2 linked regions of the Homo sapiens genome follow. The protein of the gene in region 2 purifies or fractionates together with the protein of the main gene of each other region. This does not show direct contact. Each region holds a gene or a part of one and is shown on either strand. Other genes may lie near its edges.

Region 1 (3,651 bases), on a different chromosome or scaffold from region 2:
CTCATGCCTTTAATCCTAGCCCTTCTGGAGGTGAGGCAGGAGGATTGCTTGAGGCCAGGAGTTCAAGACTAGCCTGGGCAACACAGTGAGACCCCATCTCTACAAAAAATTTTCAGAAGTGGCTGGGCACAGTGGCTCACTTCTGTAATCCCAGCACTTTGGGAGGCTGAGGTGGGAGGATCATGAGGTCAAGAGATTGAGACCATCCTGGCCAACATGGTGAAACCCTGTCTCCTTAAAAATACAAAAATTAGCTGGGCGTGATGGCGCGCGTCTGTAATCCCAGCTACTTGGGCAGCTGAGGCAGGAGAATCGCTTGAATCTGGGAGGCAGAGGTCACAGTGAGCAGAGATCGCACCACTGCACTCCAGCCTGGTGACAGAGTGAGACTCCTTCTCAAAAAATAAAATAGCTGGGTGTGATGGTGAGCGCCTGTAGTCCCAGCTTCTAGGGAGGCTGAGGTGGGAGGATCACCTGAACCCAGGAAGTCGAGGCTACAGTGAGCCTTGATCGCGCCACTCAACTCTCGCCTGGGCGACAGAGCGAGACCTTGTCTCTGAAAAATGAAAAGTAAAAGGAAAACCCCAATTAATTTAAGAAGATCCAGGACAGGGGCTCTGTGGGTCTCCAGGGGGACAGCAAAGTCAAGACCCCTCGGTTCCCTACTCCTGGAAACCATGTTGAAAGGAGAATCAGAAACAAACTCCCTCGGAAGACACCAAAGCCACCTGGGGTCCCCAACTGTAACGCGTGAGGGGAAAGGAGGGCTGAGCGACGTGGTGGAGGCAGAAGGCCATGGAAGGGATGGGAGAGGCCGGGGCCTAGGGCAGTGGGGCACGCTGGAAACGCCTCCCAGGCTTATAGGAGAGGCCGGGCCCAGGGCAACGCTGGAAACGCCTCCCAGTCTTACAGGAGAGGGCGGGGCCTAGGGCAACGCTGGAAACGCCTCCCAGGCTTCCTGCAGCCGGTGGGTAGGGTCTGCGGCTTCTGAAGGAAAATGTACTGCACCCAGAAGTCTTTGCCCAGCCCCGCTGCCACCAGCAGGAGCACACCAAGACCCTTAACGGACACACCTCTGATGCTGGAGAACTGCCCTGCCTCTCTGAGGTTACGGGAGAATGTGCCCCACGGAGGAGACCACTGGAGGGACAGGATGGCTGAGTGAACTCCACCTCCGGGGAACACAAAGCTCCACTGAAAAAGAGGAAAGCCACAGGCTCTTTCCTAGGAAGGACCTGCCACAGACCACGCTGAGGGCTGCAAATGACACTGACCCAGCCTCCTGGGATCCTCGGCCACCATGATGGCACCCAAGGCCTGAGAGGGAGGGCAGGGGAAGGACCGGGTCTATCGACAGGGATGCGTGGCCCATGAGAGCCAGGCACTGTTACAGCAGCCGCTGGGGCGTGGATTTTGGCGGGGAGGGGGCAGGGCTGCTGTGGTTGGCTTTTAGACCGGGGGGGGGGGGGGTCTCATCTAGGGCAATTCTGCCCCCAGGGGACTCTGGGCAACGTCTGGGGACATCTGCGGTTGTCAGGACTAGGGGTGCTCCTGACCCTGGGTGGAGGCCAGGGACGTTGCTCAGCACCCAGCAGTGTCCAGGACGGCCCCACCCTAGGGAACGGCCCAGCCCGCATGTCCGCAGTGCTCAGGGTAGACGCTTTAGAGCATCCCCGGTGACCATGTGTGTGCAACCACACGGAGGGGGGGGAAACGTGATTTTAAAAGCCCATCAGGTTGGAGGGGCACGAACTGACGCACGGGACAGGTAGCGCCCTGAAGCTGGGCTGCACGGCCTTCAGGCCAGGTGGAGCGAGACTTGCTGTCAAACAGGCAGAGCCACTGAGAGCACTGAAACCTGAGCGGAAAGCCCCGTGGCTCCCATAAGGCCGGCACCGCCGAGTCAGCGTTAACGGGACGCTGGGTCTGGACGCTGCTGGCCCTGCACCCCAGACAGAGGCCCGCCCCACTCATCCCTCCCAGGGCCTACTGCCCGCTGCTGCCCCCTGGTGGCTCGGCCCAGAAGGGGAGGCCCCAGTTGGGGAAACCGAGGCCTGCAGAGAGCACCAGGCCCCACAGCAAGTCTGAGGCTTCTGGGTGAACACTGTAGCCCCCGCAGCTCCCCTGGAGCCCAGGCCCATGCCCGCCGTTACCTGGCCCCTTGCCCGAGGCCTCCAGCTTGCGGAGCTTGGAGATCTCGTCCTCGGTGATGGTGGTCATGTCCCGCCAGAAGTCGGCGTTCTTGCCCTGCTCCAGCTCCATGTAGACCTGGGGGCAGGGGGCAGGGGTCAGGACACGGGTGTGGCTGGGGTGGGGGTGAGGGTGCAGGTCAGAGGAGCATCGGGTGGGGCTGGGTACCTGGATATCCTCCAGCAGGTCCTCCATGTCGGCCACGGTGAGGCCGTTGAGGAACGTGTAGGGCTCATGCATCTCCACGGCCAGATCGTCATCCTCAGCGCTGATGTACTTGGCCAGCAGGTCGATGGGCTTGGCCCGCCCGTCCCGGATGCGGATCTTGGAACTGTGGGGAGCAGGGGAAGGTGGCATCAGAGCCTGGGCTGTGCCCTCCATGCTAAAGACCCTGCCCTTGGGGTGACCACACCAGTGGGAGCCGAGGAGGGGCCTGACCCGTTGGGGGTGGTCAGGGAAGGCTTCCTGGAGGAGGAGGAGGAGGAGGCATAAGGTAGAGTGAGCCGGGTCAGCCAAAGGGCGCAGGCCAGCAGTGCAGACAAAGTGCAAGCAGCGTGGACCCGGAGGTGGGCCAGGTGGGAGGGGCTTCCTGGAGGGCCTCTGGGATGTGCCCAGGATGGCGGCTTCTATGTGGGCTGTGATGGGGAAGAGTGGAGGAGCTGAAGCAGAGGCAGGCTGGGGGACCAGAGTAGTCACTGCCTTGCAACCACCTCCTCCCCCAGGCAGACCACTCGGGGCAGAGAGCCGGGTTTCTGTTCTGGGCCTGCAGGGGGGTACGCGTTGCAGGCGGGCCCTGGTCCAACCCAAGGGAACCCGTCACCAGGGAGGCCCGAGCTGGGAGGAGCCTGATGTCACCCGCCACGGGGCCCAAGGCAAGCAGGGACACCCCGGAGCCTCAGCTTGTCTGTAAACCAGGCGGATGGGGGTGCCACCCTCCTGGGTGGAGTGTGGGAGGGACAACTGCAGTCAGTGCAGGACTGGCGTCCAGCATGCGTGGGGTGCCGTTCACCTGGGCCCGTCTCCTCTGCACCCTGCCCAGCAGGGGAGGGCAGGAGACAGAAGCCTTGCCGCCCGGGAAGGGGTCAGGAAGGGAAGGTCCCAGGAAGTGCCGTGTGGGACCCTGAAGGGTGGGAGAGCAGTGGCTTCCAGAGTGACAGCCAGTGCCCGGCCCTGGCTCCAAGTCTGGGTCGGAGGGAGGGGGAGGCCCCAGCGCACCGCAGCTTGGCCTGCTGGAGGTGGAAGTTGTCCTCCTGCTCCTCCCATGTCTTGAAGTGCTCTGCCTCCTTCTCGCGCTGCAGCATCTCCAGCTCCTGCTCGCGCATGGCCTTCTCCCGCTCCCGCTCCAGCCGCAGCTGCTTCACCTGCAGGCACAGGAGGCTGAGGGCAGCGGGGACCGTGCGGTCTGCAGGGCTGCGGGGGGAGGGGCTGTGATGATGGGGGCCCAGCCTTCACCCAGCTGCC
Region 2 (3,205 bases):
AAGCTGCCGTGGCATTTGTATACAGATTTTTGTGCAAACATAAATTCTCATCTCCAAGATTTTTTTTTTTTTTTTTTTTTTTTGAGACGGAGTCTCGCTCTGTCGCCCAGGCCGGACTGCGGACTGCAGTGGCGCAATCTCGGCTCACTGCAAGCTCCGCTTCCCGGGTTCACGCCATTCTCCTGCCTCAGCCTCCCGAGTAGCTGGGACTACAGGCGCCCGCCACCGCGCCCGGCTAATTTTTTGTATTTTTAGTAGAGACGGGGTTTCACCTTGTTAGCCAGGATGGTCTCGATCTCCTGACCTCATGATCCACCCGCCTCGGCCTCCCAAAGTGCTGGGATTACAGGCGTGAGCCACCGCGCCCGGCCCTTCCAAGATTTTGATTATGTTTTTCTTTTTTCTTTTCTTACCTTGTGTTTAGATATCCTTTTAGATTTGGATTCTCCTGCTCCTGTCACGACACCAGCACCAACTCCAGTTTCTGTAAGCAATGACTTGTGGGGAGACTTCAGCACTGCCTCCAGGTAATGGGCATAGTGAAACTAGCATACTCTCAATCAGGGTGTAGGAGATATGTACAGTCAATTGAAATCTTTGATCTGGAGAAGCAATGGATATGCAGGTCACATAGAGTCTTTTGGAAGAGTTCTAGTGAAGGAAATATAGTAGTGCTGGGAATGGGGGGACAAAAAAGCTGTAGGATGAGGTTTGAGTGGGATATTTCAGGCCTTTGTAAGTAGAATTGCCATGAAGTGTGGTTTTGGAAATTCTAGGCAGTGATTTCTTAGAAACTATTAAGTAAAGAATGGAGTTGTTATCCTAATATTATGTCTCTGGCTTTCTCTGTTCTCCTGTCTTGCAGCTCTGTTCCAAACCAGGCACCACAGCCATCCAACTGGGTCCAGTTCTGAATGGCATTGGCAGGACATTAAGGACAGACTTGAGGAATAAAAATGACCTTGAGGGCACCAATCTGTGAGGGAAGTTAGGAACCCATTTCCTCCCCAGAACCAGAATGACTGGACAATCTTTTTCATAGCTTCTCCATCACATTCAAGCTGGTTTATGTCACTCCCCTGTGTTGTTACTTGTACAGCCAAGAAAGTATCTGTTATCTCCTGCGTAGTACCAAGGTAGGGGACTAGTGGATCTTATCATAGTTTTGGCTGACTATGCAGGGCTTAAAAGGCCAGCGTCTGTTTGAGGGGGAATGACCTCTAACATCTGTAAAATTTGTCTCATCTTTTAATTTCTTTAACTTATTTCAAAATCATCTCATGACCCTTGTGTGCCTCTTTGTGAAGCCCTATTTAGCAATTTCAGGGGAGTCAAAAACCTTGCAACTTCCTTCTCCACTAACCCAGGACTAAAAATGGACAGGCTGACCTCAGTGTTTACAAATTCAGAATTTTGATAGGGGTAGATATGGAGAAAGACCTATTTCCTGGGTCTCTGCTGTGTAGTCTCCTTCAGGCTTATTGTGCTCAGTGAACATCCAGTGCTGGGTGCAGCTCCATCACCCTCTTGTGTGTTTACATGTCTCTTTCTATGATAAGAGGGTTGTGTTGGTGGCACCTCCACTACTCTTTTCTGTTTGTTGAGTTTGAATTGTGTTAACATCTTTGATCAGTGGGTGTATCTGTAATGAAGGAGGTTCAAGAGGCTGTGCTTTCCAAGTGATAGTCTATAGGAGTGTTTAATTTCTTGCAGCTCCATCTGGTTGCTGCATTTGAAGCATGGCATTAATTTGTATTTGCCCTGTTCTTTGACCTAAAGTTGAAGGGTTTAGAGTTTTTAACCTGATCTGTAGAGCAGAGAGGTTGAAAGCACTTAACTCTTGTTTAGTATCCTCATTGCCTTGCTGCCTGGGTATCTGGCCCCTTTCCATAAACATTTCTTTTCAGTTCATGTAGTTCTTTAATAGAAAGCTGCTATTATGTATATTGTCATTTGTGAAGGAAGTTGGAGAGTCACAGCTTTACTGTGACAGGTTTTGCCCAAGGCTTTGATACCTGTCACCCAGGGTATCTTAAAAGCAAGTTGTTCTCCCACTACTTTCCTTTCCCTCTGCCCTGCCATTCCTATTACAATGCTGTGAAAAAAGTTCTGCTTCTTAGGTGAATGGGTACTTTCTATTTTGTTTCTAAACGAGCAATTTTGAGGATGAAATGGGAAGATATCATTGCTTCCTTTTTGCACCTATTGGGTATGTACACTCTGGCCGAAGGGAGTCCTTATGTTTAGTTTCAAAATATATTACTTTCCTGGATTCTCTTCTTCACTTTTTCTGACTTTGGGTCCATTTTCTTTTCATTGCCTCCTTTTCCAGGCAGCTCTATTCTTGCAGAGCCATAGCAGGACATGTTAAAATTCCAATAGAAAACACTAAAAGGAAAGTCTGTGGAATCACTAGTGACTAAATACTGGGAACCTATTTTCTCAATCTTCCTCCATGTTGTGTTCTTTGTATTCTTGAGATGATAATATATTATGTATTTGAATTCCTGAAAAATGGAAAATGTTTAAGATATATGTATATAAAGTGTATGCTGTATTGGTGCAATAATGGTAATTAAAAATATGAAAAAAGTGTCTCTTTTATCTTTTAATTTGCTTATTTGATTACCTTTTAAATTTAATTGACCAAATATAAGTGGACCAGTAGTTAATAAAGGATATTTATATCACTCTTTATTAAGAAATAAGGCTTTTAAGAAGTTGAGACTAGACCTCTGTGTTCATGGTTCTAAAATGACAGAGCACTCTGTGTAATCAATGAATATTCATTATTTATTTTCTGGTACAGTTAATTTAATTTGCTTCAAATTATCTTCATGATCTAGGCCACCTCTTATATCTTAACTGTAATCAGCAGAAATGAAAGGGATCAGTATAAGAGAAATAACTAAGGTCAGAACCACAGACTTTGGAAACCAGAAAAGGTCTTGGGAGTTCTTGTTCAGTGATTGCCACAGGAGATAAATTAGCTAGATGTGGTTGGTGGTTTACTCCTGTAATTCCAGCACTTTGAGAGGCTAAGGTGGGAAGATTGGTTGAAGCCAGTTCAAGACCAGCCTGGGCAGTATAGCGAGATCTTATCTCTACAAAAAATCTAAAAATTAGCTGGGCATGGCAGCATGTGCCTGTAGTCCTAGCTACTTGGGAGGCCGAGGTGGGAGGGTCACTTGAGCCTGGGAGGACG

What was found.
Region 1: the proteins of NECAP1 (region 2) and CACTIN purify together in Homo sapiens (affinity purification with mass spectrometry; one large-scale study listed by BioGRID and IntAct). This does not show direct contact.

The regions. Positions count from the first base shown.
Region 1 is NC_000019.10:3,616,722-3,620,372, forward strand, and holds part of CACTIN (splicing factor Cactin), read right to left. Parts: intron 3,552-3,651; coding exon 3,406-3,551; intron 2,522-3,405; coding exon 2,359-2,521; intron 2,269-2,358; coding exon 2,154-2,268; intron 1,195-2,153; coding exon of another isoform or gene 1,109-1,194; exon of another isoform or gene 1-1,108. UniProt on the Homo sapiens protein: Plays a role in pre-mRNA splicing by facilitating excision of a subset of introns. Required for the splicing of CDCA5/Sororin, a regulator of sister chromatid cohesion. Involved in the regulation of innate immune response.
Region 2 is NC_000012.12:8,095,177-8,098,381, forward strand, and holds the end of NECAP1 (adaptin ear-binding coat-associated protein 1), read left to right. Parts: intron 1-424; coding exon 425-527; intron 528-865; coding exon 866-914; 3' UTR 915-2,705; downstream 2,706-3,205. UniProt on the Homo sapiens protein: Involved in endocytosis.